Homo sapiens: one gene and its partner. The protein of the gene in region 1 purifies or fractionates together with the protein of each later gene. This does not show direct contact. Each region holds a gene or a part of one and is shown in the gene's direction. Other genes may lie near its edges. The genes, in order: ITGA6 and PON2.

Region 1 (15,141 bases):
GATATTAAAAATCTCTAAATGATATGATTTTTAAAAGCTAATAATAGTGGAATATATGTTTTGGTGTTGACATTCTTTTCCCCTCTACCAGTACTTTACTTTAATTCAGGTAGTTAACTTTTTTTTAGCAGGAATATAATAATTAACATTAGTATTTTTTGCTGTTTTAGATTTGTGCGACTCATGAAGCTGGAAGTGTTAATTTTAAGTTAGTGATCTGAAAACTTAGGAGGATTAAATAATGGTATATACAAATAACAGTGTATTAACATGGACATTAATAACAGAGTATTAATATGGACATTTCTCTCTGTATATGTTATTTTCAAAGGCCATGCTTTGCTAATAATTCAGTAGAGTTAGAAGGGCAGATTACAGACGAATTGGGGAATTTTGAGGTATAATTTCAGATATGTGAGGAAAAGTCGTTTGATTATTGTGATGTGAGTAAATGGAGATGTAGAGAGGTAAAGAAGAAAATGGCCCACATTTTTTGACTGTGTATGTATAGAAAATGCTATATCATAAAAGACAACCTAACTCTCATCCATGATGAAGAGAACTGCATCTGATTTGGAAATAAGCCATTTTTGAGAAATGTATTAATAATAAGTCACATAACACTTTCACTCATCAGGGAAAACTTAGGAAAATGGTCCCTTTTCCATTCAACAATTTGTTTTAATTGTGGTTCTAAATGACTCTTGAACACCTTTCTCTGTGTGCAATCTTCAAGGGTAATTTCCCTTTGCCCCCACCTCCACCCCAACAGAATCTTCATGTACAGTATTTCCCAGGTTATTTTGACCTAACTGAAATAACATGTTGAATTTAGTTTTATTTTAGCATGAATAAATGCTTTATATAGTAAAACAAAACAAAAATATCCACCAATTATGTATATTTTAATTCATGGAAAATATGGTTTACCTGCTTTATAAACCTGACCTAAAATGTCGCCATTTAAAGCCATATAGTGATTTGGGCTTACTATATGAAAACTTATGTTTTAAATTACTAATTGTAAGAATTTTTAAAAGATGAAATCTTGGTTAAAGTGATCTAAAGAAAAGATCAATATGTCTCACTTTTACACTGCAAAAAAAAGACAAATTGAGGCAGGATTACAGAGAATGTAAAATATATATATCAAGTTCATGTCATTTAAAAATTGGTTCTCTGTAGATTTTGTTAACTAAGCAAACCTTCCATTTTTCATCTAGTTTCATGGCATTATAAAGATAGTTCATGAAAATGCATGGGACAGTTTTTAATGACTCAAACAAATTTCTTTCCCATAAAAATTTACACAAATGTATTTTACAACCATAAAAGTCATCTCTGTCCTTCCTTTTTTTCCTCCAAATTTTTTTTCCTGTAACTAGTGATAGCATGGGGGATGTTTATTAGGAACCATTTATTTTCTTTTGTTTCATCTTCATTTTTTTGTTGTTTTTACCATTTCATTCCTTTAGGGATTGTTCGTGTAGAGCAAAAGAATAACACTTTTTTTGACATGAACATCTTTGAAGATGGGCCTTATGAAGTTGGTGGAGAGACTGAGCATGATGAAAGTCTCGTTCCTGTTCCTGCTAACAGTTACTTAGGTAGGAGCAGGCACAGATGGCTGCCTTTGCCCACCTTCTCAGATACCTTGTGTGAAACTCCCTCGCAGGGCCTATGGCCCCTGGACTTCTAGGCTGAGAAGAGGCCAGGTGGGGCCGGGCCACTTTTGCTGGAATTTGATAAGCTTGGTGATCTAGAGGCGTTAAACCGACTGATGCCTGGGATCCTTTCCTTCTGACTGGGGCTCCCTCAAAGGGGGAAGAAACCTCTTATCACCTAAAATCATCCGTCCTCCCTCCTGCTCAGAAGTCTGTCTCTTGAGCTAATGGCAGCCTCCGTAACCTGAAACAGGCCGCTCATGCAGCCATGAAAACATGCATGGGTGTTCACAGTAAGCTGAGATCTTTGTTCAGTGCCTCCTTCCAGAGATACTCTTAAGAACTGCATTTAATAAAGTTACTCTTAAGTGGCAAGTCAAGACCTCCAGGTCCTCCCTCTGTGATTGTGGTTCTCCAAGGATTAGCCCTGCTTCTGGATTGGGACCCCATGTCACAGGGCCCCACAGATGGATAAAAGCTTCCCAGCGGAGGTTGAGCAGGACTGCTAAAACGGCTTTCAGGACACCCAGACTGTGTCTAAGGGCCAATTCTTAACTCCTAAGGCTTGTTTGCATGACTAATGGGTGTCCTAAGTTATTCATGTACATTATGGTAATTACACAAAGGCTTTTAAAAGCTTTAATTCTTGGTATGAGTTGACAAAAAGAATAATTACTGTGCATTTCTTGGAAAAAATGTAAAAAAAAGTCTAAACCCAAATAGTAACCTGTTTAAAAAAAAAAAAAGAAAGTGAAGAAAAGTACCCAGATGTTAGGATATTACTGGAAGAATGGAAAGTAAAAAACGAAAAAACAGGTATAGATACATGAATAATTTCAAGCAATGTGCTAGTAAACACGCACTAATAAGTTGTTCAGGCCGGGCCTGGTGGCTCACGCCTATAATCCCAACACTTCGGGAGGCTGAGGCAGGCGGATTACTTGAGGCCAGGAGTTCAAGACCAGCCTGGCCAATGCAGCAAAACCCCTTCTCTACTAAAAATACAAAAATATTAGCCAGGCGTGGTGGTACACATCTGTAGTCCCAGCTACTCAGGAGCCTGAGGTAGGAGAATCATTTGAGCCTGGGAGGTTGAGGTTGCAGTAAGCTGTGATTGCAGCACTGCCCTCCAGTCTGGGCAACAGAGCAGGACCTTACCTCAGAATGTTTCATTTAGGGATTACTTATGATTAAAATACTTGATTGTAATTGCACTGGCCAAGAAACCAATACTTTGGTCTTTAAGATGGATGGCTGTGGATTTTATAAATTTACTTGCTGTCAGAACATTTGAAAATATGAAGCATTTTTTCTCAAACACATTTGCCACTTTTAGAATGGATTTCCTCAAAAGTGAATGCCTGAGAAAGAAATCAAATTCATATTGTTACATTCGGTTTGTCTGTACTGTGTGGAATCTGTCACTTCAAAAGATCAGAGGGTTTGGGGGAACAAAACGATCTGCTTGAGGTTTTGGAAGCTGGCAATGAGAGCAGCTTGCCGGATGCAGTGGTGGCCTCCTCATCCAGCGAGAACAGCAGTGGCTGTCCTGCCTCTTACCAAGCATAATTACTTTTTCTTCAATTTCTTCCGTCCCGTGCATGCGTACAGGCCTGCTGTTTTTGACCAGCGTTTCCTATACAGATCCTGATCAGTTTGTTTATAAAACACGGCCTCCCCGGGAGCAGCCTGACACATTCCCTGATGTGATGATGAATAGCTACCTAGGTTTGTGACCTCTGCGACGACAAATAAATTGTCTTGGTTGTGGTCATTAAATTTTTTTTTTTGATCCATACAGAGCATAAATCTTTTTATGCCCTATTTTGTTTCCATTGAAGCACACACAAAAAGCATGCCATGGCTGGGGCTCTGTGGCCAGATGGTTGTAAGAGCTGGACTCCATATTGCCCTCTAATCTGGTGGCTCATGTTTTTCAATTCACTTCACAATTTGAGAACTGCAACGGTAGTGGTGAAGCTTTTCATAAGTAAAACCCAATAAAGGGGGTGAGCTTATATTATTCTGCATCTGCCTCACCTTTCTATAGAAACATTTACTTAATTTGAATGGTTTTGATATGGGCACTTCTATTTGCTTTTCACCAGATCTGTTATTTGTAATCTGACATCCTACCTGATGCTTTATAATGGGTGTGTCCTAATGTTTTCTGCCCTCTGAACAAGTATATAACTGATACCAATGACAACTTCCTCACCTCTGTTGTTTATACTAGGTTCTCAAATACCATGTATCATCAGTCATTGTTTTGTCTGCATGTTTGTGTCTGAGAACTAAGTTGGTCCAAAACAATGAAATGCTATCTATGGTGTATTAATGATGTTAGCATTTGTTTTTGTCTGATTACCAAAGAGTTGATGCCTCTTACCAAGCTTAATTACTTTTTCTTCAATTTTATTTTATTCCTGTAAAAATACTGGTCATTAAATTACAGCAGAACCCTGTAACATGCACTCAATTATGCTTCCAGTCAGGTTATATATTCTCTGTGTATATGATGTAACATAACCAAATTATTCCTGGACAATTCAGTATCTAGCTTGATCTCCTTTTACCATAGTTCCAATATTAAAATAGGGTGGAAATTGATTCTTAAGATGTATGAATACTTCAAAATTCAAGTTATACATAGGTGCTTTTAGTTAAAAGTCTTAATATCCATAGAAAGCAGTAAATTAGCTAGCCCCAGGACTTTGTCCTTGTGTCACATCTGAACTCTGTCACTCATATTACGAATGTGATAGCTGGTGGGAGGGTCAAGAGGAGAGAGGGGTGGGAAGCCAGAGGAAGAGGTAATGATGGAGTTACCAATGTCATAGGCCTAAAATATATGGATTGATGTGAGGGGCTCTATATATTTTGTTTTTCTAGGTTTTTCTTTGGACTCAGGGAAAGGTATTGTTTCTAAAGATGAGATCACTTTTGTATCTGGTGCTCCCAGAGCCAATCACAGTGGAGCCGTGGTTTTGCTGAAGAGAGACATGAAGTCTGCACATCTCCTCCCTGAGCACATATTCGATGGAGAAGGTCTGGCCTCTTCATTTGGCTATGATGTGGCGGTGGTGGACCTCAACAAGGATGGGTGAGAAAGCCTCAGGTTATATTATGCTGCAAATCATTTCTGCTTTGACTAGCTTCTATACGACTGGAGAAGAGCCGTCCTTTCAGGTTCATTGACGTAAAGAATATTTTTATTGCCGCATTTTTACCAGCCTATCTTTATCATTTCTATGATGGCAGCAGACAGACATTCATATCCCTCCCCAGCGTATAGGATTATATTTTTGATTTTCAGTTTTTACTTATATGTTGGGATCATGAGTCTATGAGAATTAAAATTTGAAAAAAATTGACTCAGAAAACACTTGCATGATTCTGTTCTGTGGTTTCATATGGGGCTGATGGAGCATCAGCTCCCGTTGAAAACAGGAATTGGTGATAAAGTAAAAAACAGATATGTGGCTGTTGGTGCCAGTTGGGGGGGTTAGAACAGTGAGGTCTTAATGGGAGTCCTGCTGTACTATGGTTCTAACTCGAGAAATTGGCTTTGAGTTCTTACCCTTAGTATTTTTCTTGGGGCGTTTATTATAGGCTACCTTGGTTTTTAAAAAATGTTATAATTGAGTCATAAATTCTGGAGTTGAGGGCCTTTCTATTATATGTCTTTGTATCCTTAGTACCTAGACTGGTGTTGCTGGTATGTTAGCTGTTGGTTCACGGCTCTTTCCCCTCATTATGTTTTTAGGTGGCAAGATATAGTTATTGGAGCCCCACAGTATTTTGATAGAGATGGAGAAGTTGGAGGTGCAGTGTATGTCTACATGAACCAGCAAGGCAGATGGAATAATGTGAAGCCAATTCGTCTTAATGGAACCAAAGATTCTATGTTTGGCATTGCAGTAAAAAATATTGGAGATATTAATCAAGATGGCTACCCAGGTAGATAATAGATTATGAAATGGCTATGATTTATAGATTATTTGATTGTTTAAATAATAGCGCTGCTGGGCACAGTGGCTCACGCCTGTAATCCCAGCACTTTGGGAGGCTGAGGTGGGCGGATCACCTGAGGTCGGGAGTTCGAGACCAGCCTGACCAACATGGAGAAACTAAAAATACAAATTAACTGGGTGTGGTGGCACATGCCTGTAATACCAGCTACTCCCAGCTTTGGAAAGCTGAGGCAGGAGAATTGCTTGAACCCGGGAGGCAGTGGTTGCGGTGAGCCAAGATTGCGCCATTGCACTCCAGCCTGGGCAACAGGAGCGAAACTCCATCTCAAAAAAAACAAAAAAAAACCCCGAAAAAGCCAAACAAATAAATAATAGTGCTTGTGTCATCTTACTTTAAAACATTTTACTAGAGTGTTTCTAAAGCGTTTGTTAAAATGTTAAAATGTGATGTTGTCAACAGATATTGCAGTTGGAGCTCCGTATGATGACTTGGGAAAGGTTTTTATCTATCATGGATCTGCAAATGGAATAAATACCAAACCAACACAGGTAACCAAATAACCGGGATTTCTACAGCTAGAGTCTCAACTTTTTGCCCTATAATAAAATATTTAGGTTTAAGTGACTTTTCACACAAATCTTATTTTATTTACAAGTCCACAATAGTATAAATTTTTTAAAAATGTATTACTAGAAGATACCTTCAAAATAAATATATAAATGTAATGACTTGCTTGTTCTAATTGTAAAATTTCTTAGATAAGTTAGGAATCAAGGTAATCCAAAGCAAATGAATGTTATTCTACCCTGACGGCATTAAGATAAGAGGAAATACGATATATTCTCTTTAGTAGCATACTAAATAGAGATGAAATTGGTCAAACAAAATAAATGACTGTAACTACATGGAGAATGTAGACACCAAAAATTAAAAATGTCTTTTGAGAAAAATAAGACTTGTAGGGAAGGTAGGGAGATTTGGTTTGAAATGGCCTGATTGACTTAATACAATAAACAAGCTCATCAGAAATGGGCTCTTTTCTGCTTTGAGATACTATGTAAATCGGATGACTTTTATGAAATGAAATGTATGAAGTGTTAGATCATATAGAAATTTATGACTTGTATATAATATAATTTACTTATAAGTGAACTCTCAAATTTCAGTTCAAAAGAAACTTGTGTGTCTTTTTCAAAGCATTGTTAAGAAGCTCATGGTGATAACCTAATGTCCATTCGGATGCCCTGTGTATTTCAGGTTCTCAAGGGTATATCACCTTATTTTGGATATTCAATTGCTGGAAACATGGACCTTGATCGAAATTCCTACCCTGATGTTGCTGTTGGTTCCCTCTCAGATTCAGTAACTATTTTCAGGTCTGTTATCTATGATTTTAGTGTTAAGCATGTTCTATAATCAGGTTATACTAAAATGTTGACCTTTTGGACTGAAATTTGTCATACCTATACTTCAAAGGTTTATATGAATTGTGAAGCTATTTCTTTTTCTTTTGAAGTTAGTAAACAATGTAATAACAACCTATTTTCTAAAATCTTTTAAAGTATCTGAGGAAAACATAGATCCAAGTTAGAATTTTTACTTCATATATTTTTAAAACCTTAATTTTGATGATGAAAAAAACAAAACACATATAAAATGTGACAGTACAAAGAACATACAGAAGGAAACCCCCTATAATTCACCATGCATTATTAAACTCCAAGATCTTGATTTCTATTTTATTTTCTGTGATTGGACCATGTATATTTAACAAAATTAAGACCATAATTGTGCATAATTTTGTAACCTGCTTTTGTCTCTTTAGGATACATAGTAGACTTTTCCTATGTCACTGAGTACTTTTCCAAAATGAAGTTAACAACTGTCTGTGAGGCATCTTCTGACAGGTTCAGAGCTTATTTAACCAACTGCCTTGCTCTCACTGGATGGTTACGTTGCTTCGCAATTTTTTTTTTTGCTCCCATGATATAAAAAGCTGTGGAAAACATTCTTACTTTTGTTTATATCCTTGATTATTTCCTTATTATAAATTCCTGGATGTGAAATTGATATATGTGCTTCAAGACTTTTGATTCGGTTTCGCCAAGATGACCTCCCAAAATGGTGCGACATTTCCCATCCGTGGTGTTTGAGTCTCCCTTTAACCAGCGCTTTCATCACTGCTGGAAATCACCATTAAAAATTGGAGGCTTTTTTTGGTTTGTTTTTTAATTTTCAAAAAGTAGCAGATTTATTTTTTTTAAAGTTAATAATATAGAATTATAGAAAATCCAGTACATTATTCCCATCTTCCACAAAACTTGTGTGCATTTCTCTACTTTTAGGGTATCATCAAAAGGCTACACTGTAACTTCTGCTGTCTAATCTGGTTTTTATTTAATCTTGGGCTATCTCTCCTTGTCAATACAATAGATGACTTAACTTTAGTCAGTTAAATGTTTGCCCCTGTCTATGTGTAACTGATATTTTAATATCCTTACTTTCCTGTCCTCATAAGTAGGTTGACTGTCAACCCTGTACACTTGTTCCCTCTTTACTTGCAGATAGTGTGAAAGTAGAATTCAACAACCCTTTGATAAGAAGAGGAGTAACTTCCCCTTATTTTACAAATGAGGAAACTGAGGCCCAGGACTTGGCTTGAGCTTTTAAGGCTGGAGCCTGAGAGGACAGAATGTAGCACCTAAATCTTCCTGACTTGAATCCTGTGCATTTTTTCTACTAAATTGTACTAGCACTTCAGGGTAGTTAGTAAATAAACACCAATTTTAAACATGAGGCAGCCAAACTAATAAGACTTATTTTCTATGTTAAAAGACACAGTTTTCATAATTCATGTATATTTTGCCCTCAAAATTGTGTGTTGTATGTTTAAAAAACAAAATATGTTCTAGGCAGAAATGTCTGTTAAAATTCTACAGTATGTAAAATACTATATCTGTGGCAACTGTGCCTTTTAAATATGCTCTCAAAACTTAAGAATGTATCTAGTTAGTATCTTAGAACCTAGCAGCTGTCTAAATGTAAAATAAAAATAGAATGGTAAACAATAAAGGAAAATGGAAAAACAGGGAATGTGGGCAGTATTTGACCCTTTATTGGACCCTACCTTCACTGTGAATGGACTTGTGCTCTAGCCTACCAACAGATTGATTCCAGAAGTTCGAGCTAGCTGTTTGGGATTTGGAATGCATTTTCTTGTAGAAACACTGTTCTCCAGAATGGCTGGGTTTACCACAAGCCCATCAGAGTCAGCCTAACTGAATCCACGTGGTAATGAAACCCCAGGCCCCATTCTGAGTTCTGGTGGGGAGCAATGGAGGTGGGCCTCCTCACCCACTCATACCCCTCAACCCACCGCATACCTGCATTTCTTGTGCCTGTGGCAGCAGTTGGGCCACAGACCCGTGGAGACCCCTGTGGCTGCTGGGAGCAGGGCAGCCAAAACATACGAAAAGATGTTTTCAGATGGTGAACCAGAGTAGGGCGTGGAATTGGATTCCAGCTTCTCAAGTGTTTGCGGGGTTGCAGTAGGCAGCGCAGAGATGGGAAGAAGTTTAAAAGTTTAAGTTTTTGCTTGCAGAGATATCGTGGGGGTAGAAAAGTTGTCAATCCTGGCAATAGGAAGGCAAAGACTGAAGGTTGTGGGTGGGAGACTCCGAGGGAGGCTGAAGAGAAGGGCAAGTGTTTGTACAATGGAGACTCCCAAGTTCAGGATTGCCTGTATTAATTCACATACTGTAGACACGCTGATCATGAGCATCTCAGGTATTAGGTGTTTGTTGGTGTAATTCTTCCAGAGGGTATGTTGGCAAGACTACTCGTAATTAAAAATGCACATATTCTTTGACTCCAAAATTCTGCTGCTGGGAATTTATCCCACAGATAAACTCAAGTGTGTGCACAGATGATGTTTGTGAAAGCAGAAAGCTCAACAACGTGAATGTCTACCGATTAGGTACTGGTTAAATAAAGGATGTTACACTGATACAGTGTAACGCCATCAGGTGTGAAAAACAGTGAACTAGATCTATGTGTATATACAGGACAAGACCTCTGAAATGGATGAGAAAAAGCCACATACAGAACAATGGCAATTAAGTTCCCATTTAGTTGAAATTATACATATATTTTAATATTTAATTTTAGATAATTTTAACTGACGTGTCTGGAAGAACATACAAGGCTACTTGGGTGTTCGGGTGGGAATGGAGACAAAATATTTACTTTAACCCCCACATGTTGCACATGTACTCATAAGTGTGTACGTTTTTAAACAAATATTGTATAATGAGGCTCTGCATTGTATACATTTATATCTATTAACAGTTATTTTCTTCAGCAATGGGGGAAAACGTCACGTGTATTTTTTTTCCTGTGTTTTTAAGCTGTGCTGGGCAGCTAAGGATGCTCTCTAGTATGTGAATTAGACTCACATTCAAGGTAACAGAGGCTGAGCTTGTTTTTCACTCCTTTTGTCTTCAGATCCCGGCCTGTGATTAATATTCAGAAAACCATCACAGTAACTCCTAACAGAATTGACCTCCGCCAGAAAACAGCGTGTGGGGCGCCTAGTGGGATATGGTGAGCATCCCTCTGTCTTGGTGGGATCCCCCTCAGTTTCCCACCTCCACTTCATGATGACTCTATTGTCCTGAGGAGCCACAGGGAAGATGACAGGAGTGCTGGGCAAAGGGAAGAGGGTCTGTCAAGTGTTTTTATAACATGTTGATCATCAATGGGCATTGGGGGGATTGGAGAGCTAGGGAACATGTTGGGTTTTTTCCACTGCAATAATGGATCTTTTAAGAAATATGTGTTTGATTTTATTCAGCCTCCAGGTTAAATCCTGTTTTGAATATACTGCTAACCCCGCTGGTTATAATCCTTCAATATGTAAGTACCTAGTACCTTTAAAATATGTCTACTTTCTGTCTGCCAGGTTGAAAGTTCTGCATAAATCACAGAAAAATAAAACTGCAGTGGCCAACATGGGTCTGTCAATTCTGGTGTAAAGAATTAAGTGTATGTTTTGTCTCCCTTTTAATCAGGAGGGCACAGCACCGTGAGGGAGGAAAAAAACTCCACTTGGTCGCCATTTGAGTTTTCCAGAGCAGATGGTTTAGGACAGAATGGCTTGGAAAAGTACTTATTTGCTACCACAACCATTTCCTCCATTTCTGTCTTTGAAAAGCAGTGTGGAAAATTGATTTTGTGGTTGTGAGGTGGTGGGTGGTGGCTGGTGGTTGTGAGGTGGTGGGTGGTGGCTGGTGGTTGTGAAAGGGCAACGGCAGGAGCCAGAGCACAGCACAGAGTCACTGCCAGGCTGCCTTCTCTTCCCCACGCCCCTCCCTCCCGGAACACCCGCCCTGTGTTCCCAAGAGCAGGCCCCTAGGGAATTTGCAAGCCGGCCCTGAGAGGTCAGAGACCTGGTCTCTGCTCCTGGTTTCAGCTTTGATACTGACTGACCCACAGGGCAAGTCCCTTAACATATGAGTTTGCTTTCCTGTCCGTTCAGAACAATGCCTAGTAGTCATTAGTGCATACAGTTGTGCTGGAGATCAACTGAGAAGACATGAAAAGCACTTTGTCATTTATTAGATACTGTTCTGCTTCCTTTTTTTGTAATTCAAAGTAAGATTTTTTTAAATTTTTGTGGATACATAGTAGGTGTATATATTTATGGGGCAACACAGGATTTTTGACAAGAATTTTGACACCGTTAATGATACTCTTAACAATAGTGGCCGTCGTAAGCTCTCCTCTGGCATGTTTTAATAGCAGCCACACTTCTTCAGCTGTGAGTCACCTGACCCCTGGCTCCAGAGTCAAGGCCAGGGGCATAGGAATTCCAAGAAAATCTTTTCTGCAAAGAGGAAGTGAAAAGAATGAGGAAATTCTCAACCCGGGTCCGGCCATGGTCCTGGCAGTTTGGGATTCTAGTGTACTGTATCTGCCACCAAGGGACACTTTGTGAAGAACAAGGTCATTCTGTCCTTTCATATGGTTGTCAGCCTTTACGATACTATGAGGTAATGAGTCCTCTGAAGTGTTCTCCCTGTTATCTAAAGTAGTAGTTTTCTTTATTTAAAAAGATGTCCCTTATAATATTCCAGAATATAACCTAATTCAAATAACCTAAAGTTGTTGCTTGAAACAGGAAAAAATAGCCACATAAGGACTAGGGTTTGCAATGGTGAATCCTCTCACACGTCACAGCTCTGTTCTTAGCTGTACTCTAATTCTTCTTTAACTTTATATGAAGTTTTATATAACACTAATGAATGTATCCACTAAGACAACAGAATGAAGATACTGACCTGTGATAAAGTTCAGTGAATTATGAAAAGGGACAGTTTAAATAAATGTACTGTCTTTAATTTTTTTTAAGTCCCCCTTCACCTGATTCTCAGTGTCATAAGCTCAGTTAGCCTTCATCTTTCCAGATTTCGAGCTGTCTGCAGGTGGTTTCTCCGTCTCCCCTTCTGTGGGGTCGTCTCCTGCTGTGTGGTCTCTCCATGGGACCTGCAGACCTTGCACGAAGCATTCTTAGAGTGGATGGATTATGACTTCGTGCACAGGGGGAGCTGTGGCCTTTTGCTTTGCTTTTTGATGCAGCCGGCATTTTGTCGAGTGTAGAAAGCAATTCTTTGTGTGGCTTTTAATGACAAGAAAATGTATACTGTGACTCTTCAGGATCTATCATCCTTTCAGTATCATTTGTGTTATTTTTACCCAAATGCCATACCTTACACTAGCCCACTTGGATAATGGGCCCTTTGCCAGTGTTTGGAATGAATTAGAGAGACAAGGAGAAAACAGTGATTCTTTGACTAGGCAGCCAGAGAAAAAGGGGAAACATTTTTATTCTGTTCTGATGGCCATTTTTTCAAACCACTCTCAGTTTGACTGTAGATGTGAAATATCATCAGAGCACTCCTTGACTTCCCCCAAATTAATCACCTATATAAAATACAGACTTTCTCCTAGCTGTAGCACAGCATTTGATGCCATGTGTATTACTTTTATGTTATGTAGCTACTCCATTAACCAAGTGTTTATGGATGGCCTTTTATGGGTGGAACTTTCCTTTGAAGACATTCAAAGAACATTTGCTTTCATTGCTTTTACTTCCACAGTAAATTCTAAATGAACTAAGACAGAACTTCTACAAAGCTACATAAGTTAATACATCTAAAATCTTCTCCCAGTAGCCAAGAATGTGAGCTTATTGTTTGACTGGGCTATTTTAGCTCAGCAGTCCTCAGATGTGGTGTTCCATACATATAGATATCTATAATTGAGCCGTAATGAGTGTTCTACTTGGCTTGCCCCTCAAGCAGTTAGCAAAGGTGGCCTGCAAAGATTTTAAGATGATGTGGACTGTCTGGAGGGTTAGGGAAGGTTAGAGTGAATTTGGCAGATAAACGGTTTTCCTGCACCCACACCTCCCATACTTTTGCTGTGAGGGGCACTTTTGCTGTGAGGGGCACTCAGCGTGTGAGCCTTTATCTGGTTCATTGTGAAGCTAGCAGGTCACTTATAAATGGATGATGTCAAGGCTGCAGAGGCCTAAAATGGGGGAGCATTCCATTTGGCAGCTGTGACATTTAAGAATTCTCCAGATGGACACAAAAATTACTATTGAAACTGTCAGTGTTTCTAAATTTTGTTCTGAATAGCTCACATTCAGCATAAGAATGTCACATCGTGTGTGTGCGCATGTGTGTGCAAGTGGGGAACCAGTTACTGCCACTTCTGTTCATCTGTTCCATAAATCATATGTCTATCAGGTGTTGTGCTAGTTGCTGGGGACTGTGGTGGGGAATAAGACTGATGTGATCCTTGTCCTCGGCTTTGCCCCACTGTGGGAGACAATCAGGAAATCACAGCGTAGTGGGCTTAAATGTAGAGACTGGAGAGATGGAATACTCTAGGATCGCGAAGAGAGGCCAGGACAGGCTTCCTGGAGGAGGTGAGGTCCAAGCTGAAATCTGAAGGGGAAGGGAGGGCTTAGCCAAGCAGGCCAACACTGCTGGGAGGTGGAAGGGAAAAGAAGGGAAAGACAGCTGGCTGAGGGAAGGAGTGACTCCTGCGGTGGTTAGGAGGCAAGTGAGACCTGGGCATCTAAGACCCTGTAGAAAGCAATCGCCTTTTGTGTTTGTGATAGAGACTCAGAAGCTGGTGCTGCTTCTGTCCCTCTCAGTATGACCCCAAGCCTCCCCAGAAAAGGTCTCTTCCAACTCTAAAGTGAATATTAGAATGTGAGTTATTCATTTTCTGTGTTTTCTGTAGCAGATTTTTGTCCTGGAGATTGCCTTCTCCAGCCCTCTGCACACTTTGGTTTGCTTTCCCTTTTGATGGTTAGTGACTGCTTAATGAATGTAAGTAATTTAAGTATTGGCCCATGAAAAACAAAGTTAGCAGCCACATCTAATGAACCAACAAAGAATGCGTTCTGAAGTAAAAAAATGAGATTCTGATCATCCACATCCTAGCTTCCCTCCAGGTTCCATTAGTGTAGGTTATCAAGAACAGGCTGTGCCTTCTAGCCCAGTGCAAGGTAGGCAGTTTGGTTGTGGGAGCTATATTATGCTGACCGACAGGCCCTCCATCCACTCAAAAATATATAATTTACCTTGTAATTCTTTTTTATCTTTATTATTATTTTTTTGAGAAAGTTTTGCTCTTGTTGCCCAGGCTGGAGTGCAATGGCATGAATTCAGCTCACTGTAACCTCTGCCTCCTGGGTTCAAGCGATTCTCCTGCCTCAGCCTCCCGAGTAGCTGGGATTACAGGCATGCGCCACCAAGCCCAGCTAATTTTTGTATTTTTAGTAGAGACAGGATTTCACCATGTTGGTCAGGCTGGTCTCAAACTCCTGATTTCGGGTGATCCACCCACCTTGGCCTCCCAGAGTGCTGGGATGCCAGGCAGAATTCACTGTGCCCATCCTCTTTTTTATTTGTTAAGGTAAAGGTCTCATCCTACTGTCGAAAGACTTCTCCATCTCTAAAATATATTATTCCTCTGTTTAGACAACTATCCTTTATCAGTGCTTCTTAAAACTTTAATACGTATAAGAATCATCTGGTGATGCTGTTATTAATAAAGCAGATTCTGCTTCCGTAGGTGTGACTGGGCCTGAGGTTCTGCATCCTCACAGGCCCTCAGGAGATGCTGCTGTTCTAGAGATCTTTCCCAGATAGCAAAGGCACGAGGCCACTTGAATAAGCATTGACTGGTTTAAAGGGAGAAAATCAGTTTAGGTGCTCGGGGGAGTGTTGGGTTCCTCTGCTTATCGTTAGTATTCTGTGGGTTCATGAACTTCAGCCAGAAACTGATTCTTAATAACTGCTGCTGCTGAAAGGTTTTAACTTATTCTTGAGCTCCCCCAGGTGGCACAATGAAAATTTAACTTTGAAACATTGTTAACAGCAAAAGGAAGGAAAAGACAGCTTGATTTGAACCATCACAATTGTGC
Region 2 (17,522 bases), on another chromosome or scaffold:
AAACAAAAAGAATTAGCAGTCAAAACACCTAGTTTCTAGTTCTATTCTGCCACAATGTAACCTTAGGCAAAGTTGGTTTTTGTATTTGTCACCTATAATGATGAGTTTGTGATTAGACTAATGGTTTTTAGACTTTAAAAAGCCTGGGACCATTTATTTATAATCTTACTCTGAGAGCCACAGTGTGGAAATAACTAGACTGTCATTGAGTCACTTCTAGTCCTTTACAACAACATCCTTCTCTAGAGGTAGGAGAGACAATTTAATATTTTGTTTTACTCTTTAGAAATTAAAACTCGGGTTACATGGAAATGTTCTCTTCTCTGAATAGGTAACATTGTTAAACAAGTTTTGAGTGTCCTTCCATCTTTTTCTTTTTATGAATACTCCTGTACATAATTTTTAAAAACATAAGTGAGGTCAAATTATGCATAATATTTCAAAACTAGCTTTTTGTACTTAATACTAGGTTTTGGAAACTTATGTTTGTACATAATGTTACCTTTTCTTCACAACTGCACAGTATTTTTTGTGCAAAGTTCATATAAACAGTGTATGTGCAAACAATATAGAAAGATATAAAATGGAAAGTAAATAAAAATAAAAATCTCTCATCAAACTCTTCATCACCCCCAACAGAAATAACCCCAAAGATAAAGCTCCCTTTTTTATCTTTCCTGATAGTTTCAGTGCATTTGCAAACAAATATATTGACTCTTTTTTTCACAAATAGAATTTTAGTGTAAATATTTCACAACCTTCTTCATTCCTAAAACAGTGTGAGCAGCTTTCCACATCAGCATATATAGTTACTTTGTTCTTTTTAATATTTTCACATTCCATGATTTATTTAACCATTCCCCTTTTAATGTACATTTGGGTTGTTACAGTTTTTTGCAACTATGAACAAATCAGTGAACATCATTGCTGTTGAGTTTGTGTGTCTGTAGAATATGTCCTTAACAATGGGATTGTTGTTCCCTTAGAATATGTGTTTAGAGTTTTGACAGTCATTGCTAAGTTGCTCTCAATTTGGCAACAGTAATAAACTCAGTACCTCATAGTTGTAACCACATTCACTCCAGACAGAGTTCTCAGCACTCTTTTAGTAAAAATAAACCATCAGTTGACAGTGCCACCTTCAGAGTTTCTCTACAAATACCTTGCTTGCCTCCCTTTCTTTTTTTCTTCTTTTAAATCAGCTTCCTCAGGTTGATCTGCCTCTCATTCCTTAGGCATCTGTTTCCTATGTGTTCTTTCTCCTTTTTTTCATTGATACTTTTGTATTTCCCCAGTTCTACCTCCCCTCCCCTAGACTGGTTGGCTGTCCTGGAATTTCCCTTCCTTCTTTCAATTGCCCAAACACTAAGTGGGAGGAGGCAAACTCATATCAAATAGCAGATTGACTACATCTGTGCTGGATCATGCAGACAGTTCAAGAGTCCCAAGTAACTTAGCAGCTTCATCTTGCCTTCCAGCTGCAATCAAGAAGAGCCCTCTCAGAACTGGTCACTCAGCAAAAGCCAGATGGCATTAGTAAAAGATGTTGGGCAAGGGTGGGAGTTTGGGCCAGTGATCTCTTAGGTTACTTTTGCTGCTGAGTTAATAATTGTCACATTATTAAACAGCCCTTGGCCCTGGGAAGCCCACCTTCTGTGAATACAAGTCTCAGAGTAGACAATAGGGCACAACCAGCCATGTTACATGACAGACTGCCAAGTGCATTCCTCTTACAACTCACTGGGATGGAGCGCTCCTCAGAGAAAAACAAGCCCAGCAACATTTGTATTCTGAACAGGCATCTGTCTATGTTTGTGACCTTTATGTTGTGATGTGTGTGAGCTGCTGTCTGGAATTGGAAAGAATGAGGAAATATGTCACCTATGGCCCCTCTTGTGAAGTGTTAAATGCCTCTGAGGCACTTCAAAAGGCAACAGAGCGGAGAGGATGAGTGATTAGAAGCACATTTGGGATACATTTTTAGATCTAATTAGAATTGTCCTTTTTTTTTTCTTTTTTGCTTTTGCCCTGTGGTTAGCACACACCATATGAACGTTTGTCGAATGCTATGTTAGTGATGCATAATGGTTAATAATAACTTTTGGTTATATATCTTTAACAACAGTTGCTTATTCACAGGTCTTTGATAAGAAGAAATAACAATGTGCTGGACACACATTTCTATACAGGCAAAAGTGACTTTTTATGATAGAGAGGGCTGTTTCTTATTTTCTGTTTTGAAAACAGTAGTAGCTATGCACTTGAGGCCAACTAATCCCTCTAAGAGGTGAACCTTCCTTCCCCCTTGCCCTTGATTCCCATCAACACACACATACATATGCACACACTACCGTGCTTCAGTCACCATCACTGGAAGTGAACTATGTGCAACTTTTGGGTGCTTTATATATATCATATCATATTGTGTCTGCTTTAATAAATCATAGTTATTGACTACATATCATACAGGATGTGTGCCTTCTGTGGGTCAGAAAATAAGTTCACTATTTAGTCCTTTTCAAAAATTCCTTCCCGATCTATCTTATAGACAGAAACTAAGCTTTTATACACCCAAGATTTGGCAGATTAACATCTGCATATTAAAATGTCAAGAGCTAGTTAACTTTATTTGAGGCTTAAAAGTTAAAAAATCTGATTTTCTAAATGTCTGGCCTTCAAAATTTGAGTGGACTGTCTTTCTCAAGATAACTAACAATTTTATGCACTTGGCAGTCAAGACCTTTACAATAACTGCTGCTTGGGAGATTGAGGGGAAAAAAGCATTAAAGTTTGTGGCCCTTATAATCAAGTACTTTACAGTCTACTGATGGGAGAAAAGGAAAACAAAACAAAACAAAAAACCACTGTGAGATATAGATATGTCTTTTCTTTCTCTAGCAGATAAGTACCTGAGGCTCAAGGAGGTTAAGCAACTTTTGCAAATTCACTTTCCAATATAGTGTCTTTTCCCAGGGTGACTAATGTATATACTTGATGAGTGAACCAGAAAAGTAGGAAATAATATGTTACATATGGGATGCTCTATTGGGTATAGTAAAGGATGCGTTGCTGTTATAAAATTATAGTCACTTAGAAAAGAGATGTTTATTTTTATTTTTCTCTCATCAGTCTTAAGGTAAGTGAATGGCCTAGGGTAGTTAGGTGACTGTGTTCCATATGGTCATTCAGGGGCAAATGCTGATGAAGCAACACAGCTGTCTTCATCTAAGACTAGAACTCTGCTTGTTGCCATTTCCCAGCAGGAAGGGGTTGAAAGAAAATTTATGTAGATTTTTTTTTCTACCCAGTAGTTGCATATATATTGTATTCTCACATCCTATTGACCCAAACTTAGACATATGGCCACATCTGTCAGCCAGAAAGGGTGGGCAATGTTATCTATAGCTGTGTTGCTACGTGCCTATTGCTAAAAAGGCTAAAAAGGAAGAAGGGGAACATGGATGCTGGTGAACACTTGGCCACCTCTGACACAGATAATTGCTAAAGTAATAAGAAGAGATGGAAATTAAATGTGCTAAGCTAGGAGACTTTCTAAAGAAAGGGTTTGTCATGCTACGCTGTGCCATTCATGTGTTTTTTTGCTCATGCTGTTCCTTGTGCCTGGAAATTCTCCCCCTAATTCCCCTGAGCAGTGGATGCAGTGGATACCCTCCCCAGATCCCCCCCAACTTCCCTGAGTGTTGGCTACCAAAAGCTCTGAGTGCACCCAGGGAGCTAAGTCCTCCTGCCCACAGGCAATAATGGACTGACACGGGGTAGACTTAAAGAAATAAGAGGCACATCAATCAATTGAAATGTGTGGGACCTTACCTGGACTCTGAATTAAACAAACTGTAATTTTTTAAAGCTACACCTTTTAAACATGATTGGCTATTTGAACACTAACTAGATATTTGATGATATTGAGGAATTATTGTGAATTTTTAGTGTAGTAATGATATTGTGGTTTGTATAAATATATTTAGGGATAATATGATGCCTCAGATTTGCTTTAAAATAACACAGGATGAGGATAAGTGGTAGGACTGCAAGGGAAACAAGACTGGCCATGAGCTGATAACTGTTGAAGGTGGGTACTGGGTATATAAGGGCTCACCACACCATTCTCTTGATTTGTGTCTATTTCCCATAATAAAAAGTTTAAAGAGAGAGAACCGATGAAGGGGAGGGAGAGAGTCAAGCACACAATAAGAGTGACAAACAGTGCCAAATCAGCCCACAGTATTAAGTTTTCACATATTTACATAAATATCACCTGGAATGCAATATTGAAATTAATGTATATCACTAGAATAAAAAAAGTAAAGATTTAATAAATTTGTTTTGAAATAAAATAAGTTGAAATACGAAAAAGACAGAAAAGGTTTTGAAAGAGGTTTTAAAGAAAAGTGCAGGATATTCATTGGTAAAGATGTTGGTGAGAGGCTTGGAAGCAAAACTTCAGGGGAAAAAGACAACATATGGAATTGACCACAATTGAATTTACAAGTGAAGTGGCTTTACAGAGGAATCAGGGGATGTTTCTGAGAGAGGAAATTCATTAAATTCTAACTTGAATATTTTCTGTTTGCCTTTAAGTCAGAGCAAAGGCTTTGAGTCCCAGCTTCCCAGTTTGTGACCTTGAGCAATTGCTTAACTTTTCCAAAGCCTCCAATAGTCTTCACTCTAAAATAAAAGATAATCATATGAGATATTGTATGCAGGGTATTTACAAGGAGCCTGGTACTTGGTGTACCTAATGTATGTTAGTTATTATTATTAAATTAGAGGAGCAAAAATTTCTCTAGCATTGACTGCTCCTGACATAATCACACCGAAGAGGGGATACACGATGATAAAACCTTCCTGCAGTAGTGGCTATAGAAATGATGACGGGGAGAAGATCTGGAAAATATTCCAAAGAAGGCTACAGATAGATACATTTTTTCCATTGGAATTAGGCAATGGAGTTAAACAGAAGTTACAATATGGTTGAAATAAATGTATTTTTTTAAAAAAAGATTTCTCTTTCCTTAATTATTAAAAAATATACAATTTTGTAGAAAATTTTAAACAAAGTATAAAGAAAAAAATAAAAATCATTCATAATCCTATCAAAGAAGCATTGTTAATTTTTTCTATATATCTTCTTTTTCCACGTGTATACTTGGAAATTAAATTTTCTAAAATAATTTTCAGGAAAAACAAATTTTAATTAATTGAGCTTCTACTAAATAGGACTGAAAAGCAAAACCTGGACTAGAATTCTCTCTCGGTGTGTGTGTGTGTGTGTGTGTGTGTGTGTGTGTGTCTGTGTGTACATGTGTATGTGCTGTGTATACATGTGTATGTGGTGTAGCGTTCCCCTGATTCTTAACTTATTACCAGTGGACAACCACCGTGGAACTAGAGTCTAGTCATTCTTAACCTTTTTGGGGGAATCACAGTCTCTTTTTTGAATCTGATGAAAATCAAGGACCGTTTTTACAGAAACGTTCTCATCTGTGCATACATGAGACATTTTGCATTGCATAGAATTTCCGAGGGTTCACAGATACTTTGAAGCCCAAAAGTGATCCACAGACCCCAGATTGAGAACTCCTCCGCTATGCCATGCTTAAGCTTATTTCTGTGTATCTTCTTTCTGAGGAGCAGGCAGATGGGTCATCTTTACAATGTGAAGTTCTTGGCATTTTTATTTTGTTTTGTTTTTCTGCACTACGATGGAGCAAGCAACACTGGAGGCAACTGGCTAAATGCAAACTCATGAAGCAAGACCAAAATGGCTGGATAGATAGATGCTGTTTGGTTTTGACAACCTAGAAATAACCTTGAAGAAATCCTATGGAGAAGTCTTAAAGAGGAAGATTGGATTTTGTAGACTCAAAGAATGTGTCATGGTTTGGCTTAATCTAAGCCATTTTTATTCTTCTTTTCTTGTGTTTGGGTCTATTATCTGTCTGTAGAATTTATACAGTGAGACTGCTGGGGAAAGTCTTATGTCTAATTATTTGCTGTGCTGTGTGGAGTGTACTGCAGACAGTCAATAAACAATCAATAGTAATTGTAGCCTGCCTCAGAGACAGGAGTTAGAAACTTCAACTGGCTTAGGTGCATGGTATTTTTCATTAATTTTCTTCTGCTAGTTTTTTTCTCTAATTTAAAGCCTAAATTTAAAGATTAAATAGAAAAGCTTTCTTTGCTTATGAGCACAAGTAGGCACTGTTTTTAAAAGAAGGAATATATAATCCCAGGTGTTTTACCTCTGTTAATGAGAAAGATGTCTGTTTGCTTCAGATTGAATGAGCAAAGAAGAGGACAAGGATATTTGCATGGTTAAATGCCTATGAGCCCTTCCTTCAGAAAGTAATATTCCCCTGATGTCAATTACTTTTATACGGACATCTGGATGTTTATCATGAGAGTGTACAGATGTCAACTTTTTCAGTATTATAGCTGGAAATGTGGTGATAACTTGACTTTGATTTGAGTAAACATAAAATATCTAACATTTAAAGTCAGAAGTTCACTTCAGGAAGGGGTTTAAACTGACATTTATTAAAAAGAATGGTTCCTTGGAAAAAACATCAGAACCATCCCTAAAGATACAGTCACTCTGATAAAGTAAACAGAGTCCCAGTTATGCTCTGTGTAACAAATAACAGAACTTGAACATGACATTTATCTGTTCCTTAAACTTACAGAAGCTGGCTCTGAAGATATTGACATACTTCCCAATGGTCTGGCTTTTTTTAGTGTGGTGAGTGTCTTCTTCCTTCCCCAAATTCAGCAGAGGAGATACAAGGGTATTTGATGAGGGCTGCAGAACAGTAAGTTGCTTTTAAAATTCATTTTCCAAAATGCATTCTGAAGAAAAGAGAGGTCAAACAAGATCTTGGAAAACTTCCTCCAGCTTTTCTAAATGTAGAGATGAAGACTCTTTGCCCATTGAGATAGTGTTCTTTATTTCCCCATTGCATTGCACTAAAATATTCCAATGCAATCTGTGTTTTGTTTTGTTTTTTCTTTTTTAATTTTTTTTATTTTTTGAGACGGAGTCTTGTTCTGGTTGCCCCGGCTGGAGTGCAGTGGCATGATCTCAGCTTACTGCAACCTCCGCCTCCCGGGTTCAAGCAATTCTTTTGCCTCAGCCTCCCGAGTAGCTGGGATTACAGGCGCCCGCCACCATGCCCGGCTAATTTTTGTATTTTTAGTAGAGATGGGGTTTCGCCGTGTTGGCCAGGCTGGTCTCAAACACCTGACCTCAGGTGATCGCCTGCCTCAGCCTCCCAAAGTGCTGGCATTACGGGAGTGAGCCACCACGCCCAGCGCAATCTGTGTTTTAAATGTGCACTATTAAGAGGGATATTTGAGGTCTTACTGTGGATACTCAATACTAACATTATACTATTTTAAATACAGCATCTACTCATCTTTCTATTACTATTCAACTTGAAGCAAATATTCTTGCCATTATTATTTATTTTCAAATATTATACCAACCTTGCCCTTTTGCTTTCTTTCTTTTTTCCCCTGAATAGCCAATCATAAGTGGAAAGTCATTGAGTTTATTTACACCCTTCATTTTGCCTTGATTCTTGTAAGCTGAAAAACAATATCCTTTCTGGGTATACAATAGAAAGACTTTAAAAACAATTGGCTTGTGAATATTGTTGTGAATATTGTTGAAACTAGCTTGTAACAATGTCCATTCTAATTGGAAATCCAGATAAGGGGACAGATGAGGAGGTTCTGACCACCTACCTCCCTGGCTTGGGCAGACATAGGAGTTCTTGGCATCTTCATAGGTCCAGTTTTTCTGGAGGAAGAAGTAACCAACTCTGACACCTGACTGTAATTATTCCATTTCCTCTCAACATCCATTATTTTCAGGCTCTGAGACTCAAGAGGGATGTGAAATACTGGGAGATACTTAGAAGGGAGTCACCACACTAATAAAATAGTTGTTAGACTTATGAGAAAGGTGAGAGAACTCAGGTTGGAGTAGAATGAGAATTAGAACACTCTTCAGGTTCCTGATGGTTTTTATGTGAAAGACAGTGAGCAGCTGGTTATTACCACTGAGGCAATAAAGAGATACTGTGGGCTTTAGCAGAAACACCAGTATATGTATTTAGTTTTTAAAATAAGGTTTTAAAAGGAATGTTTTATTTAATTGCCTACACAGAATGAATAAAGTGATATTTATAGTAGGACTCTGGGTTTGTTTAGGAGCACATGCTTGCACATGTGTGGCTTAGGAAAAACCACTGGGACCACTAGTCTAAAATATTCATAAGTAAAGATGCAAACATTCTGAATAAAGTAGAAGGCAGTTGCATTGATTTTTTTATTTGTTTATTTGTGTTTTTTGTTGTTGTTTTGCAAGGATGTGTTCTTGGAGATTTTTATAATCTAGAATTCACCTATTTCAAGATTTCTCTCCAGCCCCCATAGTAATAAATCTGAAGTAGGAGGGATGAGGTCTCCAAACACATAAATCTACAGCCATTTTAGCTTGGGGGCATGTTATAGTTACAAAGATCTTATAGCCATATCAATAGAACTTTTTCTGCTTTTTTTCTGTTACCCTCCTTTGCTCATTTGACTTTTTTTAAAATTTAGAAACATTCCCAGTTTGCTGCTGTTTTTCATTTACTTGGCATTGTCTCTAATAAAACCTAGAGTGTACTCTCTTCTAAATAAAGAGGTCCTACATTGTGGAGGTTGTTCATTCTTCTTCCTAGCATTTTAGCTCATCTAACCCAACCTATTTTACAGTTATGGGTTGAGGGTCACCTCAAAACTAATGTCACACTTCATGAAGAATTGGATGACATAGAATAAAATATAAAAAATGTAAACAATGTGAGTGTGCTTAACACCACTGAACTGTACACTTAAAAATGGTGAAAGTGATGAATGTTGTATGTATTTTATCATAATTAAAAATAAATTTTTAAAAAGAGAAAAAATACTTAAATAAATAAGGAGTGCGAACATAACCATGACTAGTTATCACCATCTGATAGTGCTTCCTTTGCATGTAAATCATGCTTTTGTTTTGGGGACATTCATAAAGAATAGGGATTAACTGAAGTGGCACTGCCATGTAACAATAGCATAATTCCAGTTTGTTCTACTTACCAGGCTTGCCCTCCATGAAAATATACAATTGTAGATAATCTTTTTTAATTGGAGAGATTTCCTCTTATGTCCAATTTTATACATAAAGTAAGACTTTTTTATTGTGTGCCTAAATTTGTGTAAATATGACTGCATCGTATTAGTAAACTGAATTAGGTAGTGCATTCACATAAAATTTAACATCACCAAGAAGGCTTTACCTTAAGAATGTAATGATGAATCACCATTTTAGATAGACTGATAGGTAATTTATTAACTGATTTAAAAGAGAAAAGACCTATATCATCTCAGTGAGTACCAAAAAGCATTTAATAAAATTCAATACTCATTCCTAAAGTTCCAAGCAAACTAGAAAGATAAGGAAAATTCCCACAAAACTACAGCAAACATCATTCTTGATGGTGAAGCATTGGCTGCATTTGCATTAATGCTCAGAACAGGAAGAAAATACCCAACACCACAACCATCAGTAATCTACTAGAGTTCTTAGTAATTCAGTAAAACGAGAAAAAGAAATGTGAGATAGAAAAGAAAAAGACAAAACTGTCATTAGAGAAGCAGGGACTGGCTCAATTGCCCAGGCTGATGTGCAGTAGTGCAATCATAGCTCACTGCAGCCTGAACTCCTAAACTCCTGCGCTCAAGAGGTCCTTCCACCTCAGCCTTCCGAGCAGCTAGGACTACAAGTGCTCACCATAACACTCAGCTAATTTTTTTTTTTTTTTTTTTTTTTTTTTTTGTAGAGACAGAGTCTTGCTATGTTGCCCAGGCTGGTCTCAAACTGCTGGCCTCAAGCAGTCCTCCCACGTCAGCCTCCCAAAGTGCTGGAATTATAGGCATGAGCCACCAGGCCTGACCTAAAGCTGTAGTAATTTAAAAAGTGTTATATTGGCACAGGAATAGACATGAGACATTAAAATAACAAAACAGAGAGTCCCTAAATAGACCAATATGTAAATGTCAGAGATCTAGCACATGATAAAGGTGATATTTTGAATCAGTGGGAGAAGGATGGACTGTATGCCAGGCACTGTTCCAGGCACTGGGATCTAGCAGTGAACAAATTTCCACAGTCAGTATGTAGATGTCACTTTTCTCCACCCTCAGCTCTCCCTGGAATCACCTAGTCCACCAACCTTCTGATTACTCTCTGAAGAGAATAAATCCCTGATCTTCTTTTCAGTTATTTTCAGGCTTTCAGTATTCCACCTCCCCGTTATTATTTTTTCTGTTATCTTTTCTCTGTTTTTTGAGTTTTTGTGGCTTTATGCCACTACTTTAACCACAATCTCTATTTATCCTTCATGTACAGTTCCCATGTTAGTCCATAAAAATACTTAAGCTTTTGTATTTAACATTTTTCACCGTTTTGGAAAGGGTCTAAAATTCCCAGGACTCCACAGCTTTGCACCAGATAAGCCTGGAGGAATACTAATGATGGATCTAAAAGAAGAAAAACCAAGGGCACGGGAATTAAGAATCAGTCGTGGGTTTGATTTGGCCTCATTCAATCCACATGGCATCAGCACTTTCATAGACAACGGTAAGAGCCAATGGGCTACCAACATTTAGTAACGTGTGATGGTTCACAAATGACTGTGAAAAATAGATTTGGATCATATTTCTAGGAAGAGAAGAACAATTAACTCATGAGTGATTTCTGTATTCTTCATTACAAAGAACTTGTTCATTTGCCTCTTCAGCTGGCAGTAAGTTATGCTACATTTTGAAATTCCTAACAGGTAACACCTGAAAGAATGTTTAGATTTCATAATCTTTTCATATACCTACGATCATCACATTTAAAAAAGAACTGTATTTTTGAATTAAAGTAGAAACAGATTATGCATGAATTCTGTATATGGAGTAGGAAACACTTTCTTAAAGGTCAGGGAGCCAATGATCAGAAATAACACCAGACGGACAGCAATAGGAAAGACAGAGAATGATCTGTTAGGTCGTCTAACAGCTTATACATTCAACCTTTCCTTGCCTGTGGTATTTAAATGTCAGTGCCTGCCCAGAGGTCCCGTAGTTATGTCTTGTAAATTAACTCTGTTCTTTCAATTCTTTAGATGACACAGTTTATCTCTTTGTTGTAAACCACCCAGAATTCAAGAATACAGTGGAAATTTTTAAATTTGAAGAAGCAGAAAATTCTCTGTTGCATCTGAAAACAGTCAAACATGAGCTTCTTCCAAGGTACTTCCTCATTTTGTTCCTTCTCTAATTTATCCCCAGCATTTGCAAACAATCCCTATGGTGGGTTGTCCTGTCATCTTTTATAAGCGCTAATGTATATATTAGCTAATATGTAAGAGCTAAAGAGCTTATATTTCCTTATTTATAAATGTGTGTGTATAGTTTCCTTATAAACCAGGGCAAGCATGGCATATGAAAGTTGATGTCACTCATACTATTCACTGTTCTATGCGGACTCCTTTGAGAAATGATGAAGTGCCCGACTACAGGGTGATACTCTTCAGGCCCATCTTGAGGGTAGAAGGCAAACCCTAACATTTTTTCCTGCTGTCACCCTCCATCTTAGATGACTCATCACCCAGATGAGTGTCTTGCCAAGGAAGAATGGCCTGTTTTTTATTGGGTTTGTATGCTTTGCATGGGACTTTATACCAATCGCTTTCATAGGGTTAGTGATGGTTGCATGCTAGTAATCCCACAGAATTAGAGCCACTCAAGTTGAGAGTGAGTCATTACACTTCAAGAACATAAAGCTGGTTGAAAATGTGGCTAAGAGAGAATCATGTGTACCCCCACCCCCAGTTCAGTGTGTATTAGCCTACTGCTTCTTTTAGTTTAAACTTGATGAATATTTTTAATTTCTAATGAAATTTCATTTCTAATGAAATTAAAAATATTGCCTATCTAGGGCCTATCTATGCCTATCTAGGGCATAAGCATGTAACTTCCAATCATTCCTTCCAAAAATGCACTTGATAAAAAAAAATAGGAGCATAAATACCATCCAAGCATTATGGTGCTCTTTCAGAAAAATGAGACCTACCTTCCCTGTAGCTCTATATTTTTCATTTAGCAAAGAATAAAGCAGCTCTTTCAGAAATTTTTGCATAGAGTAATTGGAATTTAAATTTAATAACACCCTCACCTAACTGGTCTTAAAATGAAATTGTTTTTAGCATATAAATCTCTCACCTGAAGCATTGTACTATGGCAATTTTATCATCCATCTCTCTGCAAGTGTTTATTGAGTGCCTGTTCATTCTCGGCATGTCAGCTTTGTGAAGCAGGTAGAAATTGAACAGTCAACCTTAGTTTGACTAATAACTAAGCCAGGGAAATTAGAAAAATCCAGGAACTGAGTAAATGGAAGCTAGGTAAATGTTACTGACTGCCTAACCAGCTCACCAGCCAATCAGGCTCTCTCCAGCTCTGTACTGTGGACAGCTCTGTCCTTACGTATAATTGTTAAACCCTACATTTCTTGCTGTCAAAAAACATGCCCTGATGGCACTAAGTTCTTTCTTCTCTTATGGTAATCCTGCCATAATTGCTAAATGACCTGTGTTCAGATTACCTGGTACCATACAAAATTGTTCTCTGGCAACAATATTATAGTATATTGTATATGACTATAGTCGTGATTTTTAGCTCGTCTTTTCCTCTTACCAAAAATTTAAAGCACATGTTGCATAAATCTTATGAGTACTTAATATTTAATATGGAGACCAACAGGCCTTTTGTTTCCTCTCACATGCTATTTTTCTTTTTCAGTGTGAATGACATCACAGCTGTTGGACCGGCACATTTCTATGCCACAAATGACCACTACTTCTCTGATCCTTTCTTAAAGTATTTAGAAACATACTTGAACTTACACTGGGCAAATGTTGTTTACTACAGTCCAAATGAAGTTAAAGTGGTAGCAGAAGGATTTGATTCAGCAAATGGGATCAATATTTCACCTGATGATAAGTATGGCCCCTTATAGAATATCTTCATTTTTCTTCAGTTGTGGTGCTGGCCAAATTCTTTACTTTGCTTTCTTTGTCAATGTGAAAATAGTTTTCTTGACATTTATGGTATATTATACATATAATATATAGATACACTATATATATAATTATATATGTTTTGTATATATATTTACATATACTTAGTCACATGTATTTATATGCAAATACAATACCATATTTAAGTAAACTATATAATACAGTAATATATATGTATTTATATATAATATATAAAGTTTGGAATACATCATTGTCAAATTTAATTTTATAAATATAAATTTTAAAGTGTGATCATACTGATGCATACATATTGAAGTATCAGGTATTTCCTTTTAAATAAATGTATTATTTTTATTGGCTATACATTATTCCATTATAAGGATGATCTTAAACTAATTTAACCAATTCTCTATTGATGGATATGTGTATAGGGGTGGGGAGTTCTACATAAAAAATATTTTATACTTCTTATTTACCATGGAATTTTAAACAAGTATTTTTTTTAAAGAAAAAGTCCCTAGGAGAGTGTTTTTTTTTTGTTTTGTTTTTTGGAGATGGAGTCTCACTCCGTCGCCCAGGCTGGAGTGCAATGGCATGATCTCAGCTCACCTCAACCTCCGCCTCCTGGGTTCAAGTGATTCTCCTGCCTCAGCCTCCCAAGTAGCTGGGATTATAGGCATGCGCCACCATGCTTGGCTAATTTTGTATTTTTAGTAGAGATGAGGTTTCTCCATGTTGGTCAGGCTAGTCTTGAACCTCCAACCTCAGGTGATCCGCCCACCTCAGCCTCCCGAAGTGCTGGGATTACAGGCATATGCCACCACACCTGGCTCTAAGAGAGTATTATAACATAATGGTTAAACTTGCAGATTTTGGACTCATACAGGCCTGGGTTCAAATCCCACCCAGGGCACTGGCTAAATGGTTCTATGAGCTACTTTTCTGTAGAACAGACCCCTAGAAATAGAACTATTTGCTCAAACAGTGTGATTCTTTTAAATGTTAACTTTAATAGATATTGCCAAATTGTCCTCCAGAATTATCTCATTATTTTTATATGCACAACCACAACCTATAAGAGAAGATATTAAATTCTTGATAGCTTTCTTATCTACTGCCTCAGCACACTGAAAAATTTAAACTACTACAAATACAACATAAAATAAATTTGGCACTCCTTGACAACTAAATGCCCTTATTTTTGTAATCCAATTTCTCCTCCTTTCTTGTTGACTATAGAAAAAGAATGTAGAATCATTTAATTTAAATTGTCTCTAACTGACCTGATCCAACCTCTGCAGCCAAATCTGTTTTTCACTCTTATATTTCCATTATGAGAGTCAAACTTTCCAATCACCCAAGCTAACAAAAAAATAACAATAATGAAAAGGGAGAATCAGCTTTTACTCCTCTTTCACCATTCCTATCCAGCCTGTAGGCAGGTCCTGTTGGTTCTACCTGTGCCTCCTTCCTCTACCCCCAAACTCCTTTCCCTTTGAGTGAGACCTGCCTAATTTAGGTTGTCATCCTCTCTGACTAGCATATGAGACTTTCTTCCAATTTGTTTTCTGTCTACTTGGATTTTTTTCACTCTTGCCAATTTTGTCTGTCTATCTCTATTAGCCTTGAAGGGCTCCCCAAAGAGGGAACTCTGTCTTCCTCACCTTTGACTCCTTATGCCAGTACAGTGCCAGGCACAAAGCAAATGCTCAGGAATTGTGGAACAGAACTGACCATTTGTTGCCACTTTATTATTCTAAGATTTCAGTGGAATCCAATTGCTTATCAAATCAAGGCAGGGTAAAGGGTTGGACTTTGTTTAACAGGCCACCTCCAACCTCCCTTTTCTACTATTTCCATGCTTTCTATGCTTTAGACAAAGAACTCATTGTTTTAAACATTCCTTCCTCTTCTTGCTCCTGTGATTCTGCTCTTGTGCTTGCTTCTGCCTGGGAAGTGCCTCCTCCGTCCTCATCTCAAATCTCATCTCTCTTTACACAGCCACTGCAGATGCCCCTTCCTTGGTGAGCCTTTCTGTGTCCTCGGAAGTTAGCTATTTCTAGACCTGAACTATTTCTCATGCTTATTAGGTGTTTAATGTGTACAAACCAGTGAGATTTGTTCCAACACACTATAAACTTTCAAGGAGAGAGGCTGTGTCTTCTTCATGTTTATATCTGCTGCAACACTGAGTTCATGGCTTTTCACACATAATTGCTCAACAGAGCAGGTGCCATGGAAAGTCAATTCAATGAGTAAAATTACCTCAAAATAGTCTGTTAATTCACTCACCTTTGAAGTAGACAGATTATTCTGCATTGATACTTATCTCTTACTCTTAAAATTCGCTATGTATTAATAAATATTTTATTGAATATTAAGGAATGATCACTATTTTAATAAGATGTTCTTTACCATATATTTCTATATGTACATGATAATTAGAAGTATCAAATTATATTGTGGAATGTAAAAGCTTTTCTTCTGAAGCCAAGCATTTGTTTTATTGTCATTTCAGTGGCAAATATGGACTTCATATTCAAAATGATGTTCTATATTATTTTTCCTTACAAGCTTTTTGAAAAACAATTTAATAATTCCATGATTGTTGTAGCACCACTGAATTGATTCTGAAAGCTTACTTTTTAAATAAAAATTGACCTTTATCAAGCATTCCTTGAGGGCCCATGATTGATTAACTTCTTGGCAGGTTATTAAGACTTATTCTTTCACACTGTATTAATGAAGCTTTATATTGGCATGGAGCTCTAACCACTGTGTCCTTTCTGCAAAGGTATATCTATGTTGCTGACATATTGGCTCATGAAATTCATGTTTTGGAAAAACACACTAATATGAATTTAACTCAGTTGAAGGTAAAATATTTATTTTTACATATAGACAGTAATCTATTATGCTTTGCAATGACATAGTTTTTCTATAAGAGTACCACACGTAGAACAAAATATGGATGCCAGTGTAGCTATTCTGGGTTTTTAAATACTCCCTACAACTAGAGAAAGCTCCTGTTTCCAGCGATCTCAAGAACTGACCATGATTACATGCAGCAGCAGGTTGAGAGTGATATTCATCAGATTTAGGGCCCATTCCATGAAGTATTGATGGCAGTGGAAGAATTCCAATAAGAATTTTCACAATTGAAAATACTAATAGATGAATTCTCAAATGAAGGTTTATGCACAGTGTCAGTTCTTTCAATAATACATGAAGGTAGAAATTGGGTTCCACACCATTATTATTTTCTTCCTACTCAACAACACATATTTTAGGTTGATTAAGAATTTCCTATCTTGCTTTGATTGAGTTCCTTGAGCTAACTGATCATTGTGCATCTTTTAAAGGAAAAGGAGTTCAGTTTTTAAGATAGATTTTTACAGAGACCGATTATCACCCTAACTTTCTTAATTTCAGGGAAGAAGAAAAGTGGCTCCAAACCAGTTTTTAATACATTCCTTTTAAGCAATATTGGTGTTAGAAGGTGGAAGCAGGGCGATGTGTAATTTCCTCACATGCATAGAGGCAGGAAGGTTACCTCTAAATTATTTAATCAAGTTTCTCATGTCATTTAGATTTTGACAATTTCTCATTTGGAAGGTACTTGAGCTGGATACACTGGTGGATAATTTATCTATTGATCCTTCCTCGGGGGACATCTGGGTAGGCTGTCATCCTAATGGCCAGAAGCTCTTCGTGTATGACCCGAACAATCCTCCCTCGTCAGAGGTTTTTATATTTTCAGTTTTTTAAACTTAATTATTCAAGTCCTTTTGAACTAATAATACAATAAATTGTCACAGGGATGATTTGTTTAGTTATTTTAAAGCAATAATATAATAAGCTTATGTCGTGGTTTTGTAATTGCGTTAAGCCAATAATTGGCAGAATGTTACATTGTTCAAATACTTTAAGAAAGGTAATCTTTTGATGTATTAAATTATGGTGGAAACTAGTCAAAAGGCATTTTTATAAAGACATGTGCCCTTCTTGGGTGGTATACTGGCAATTTTTAAAATATCTGATTTATTGTCAGCTCACCACATGATGTGATATTTGTTCATGTTGAAGTAGTGTGAAAGTAGGCACATTAGTATGAAAGTATTTCTATTAAAGCTGAATTGCTATAATAACACTAAATCCTGTGTTGGCATGGAATAACTAGATGGTTTTAAGAAAGTACTTTCTTTGAAGATTGGAGAAAGTACTTTAATTTAAACATTAAAAAGATTGGTAACTGCTATTTTCAACAGCATGTCCCCTTAATCAGTGTGTCATTGTGGAAAACAGGGCTTATTGATGATTGAGTGACATGCATGTACGGTGGTCTTATATTCATACTTTGTATCCCCTGAATAGGTTCTCCGC

Evidence for each region.
Region 2: the proteins of ITGA6 (region 1) and PON2 purify together in Homo sapiens (affinity purification with mass spectrometry; 3 studies listed by BioGRID and IntAct, with this or other methods). This does not show direct contact.

Annotation. Positions count from the first base shown.
Region 1 is NC_000002.12:172,469,499-172,484,639, forward strand, and holds part of ITGA6 (integrin alpha-6 isoform b preproprotein), read left to right. Parts: intron 1-1,475; coding exon 1,476-1,607; intron 1,608-3,275; coding exon of another isoform or gene 3,276-3,392; intron 3,393-4,556; coding exon 4,557-4,767; intron 4,768-5,430; coding exon 5,431-5,624; intron 5,625-6,098; coding exon 6,099-6,187; intron 6,188-6,896; coding exon 6,897-7,015; intron 7,016-10,142; coding exon 10,143-10,241; intron 10,242-10,491; coding exon 10,492-10,553; intron 10,554-11,233; exon of another isoform or gene 11,234-12,315; intron 12,316-15,141. UniProt on the Homo sapiens protein: Integrin alpha-6/beta-1 (ITGA6:ITGB1) is a receptor for laminin on platelets. Integrin alpha-6/beta-1 (ITGA6:ITGB1) is present in oocytes and is involved in sperm-egg fusion.
Region 2 is NC_000007.14:95,405,480-95,423,001, reverse strand, and holds part of PON2 (serum paraoxonase/arylesterase 2), read left to right. Parts: exon of another isoform or gene 1-4,686; intron 4,687-6,704; coding exon 6,705-6,760; exon of another isoform or gene 6,761-6,813; coding exon of another isoform or gene 6,814-6,830; intron 6,831-10,524; coding exon 10,525-10,690; intron 10,691-11,222; coding exon 11,223-11,349; intron 11,350-12,900; coding exon 12,901-13,101; intron 13,102-15,933; coding exon 15,934-16,015; intron 16,016-16,754; coding exon 16,755-16,883; intron 16,884-17,513; coding exon 17,514-17,522. UniProt on the Homo sapiens protein: Capable of hydrolyzing lactones and a number of aromatic carboxylic acid esters. Has antioxidant activity. Is not associated with high density lipoprotein.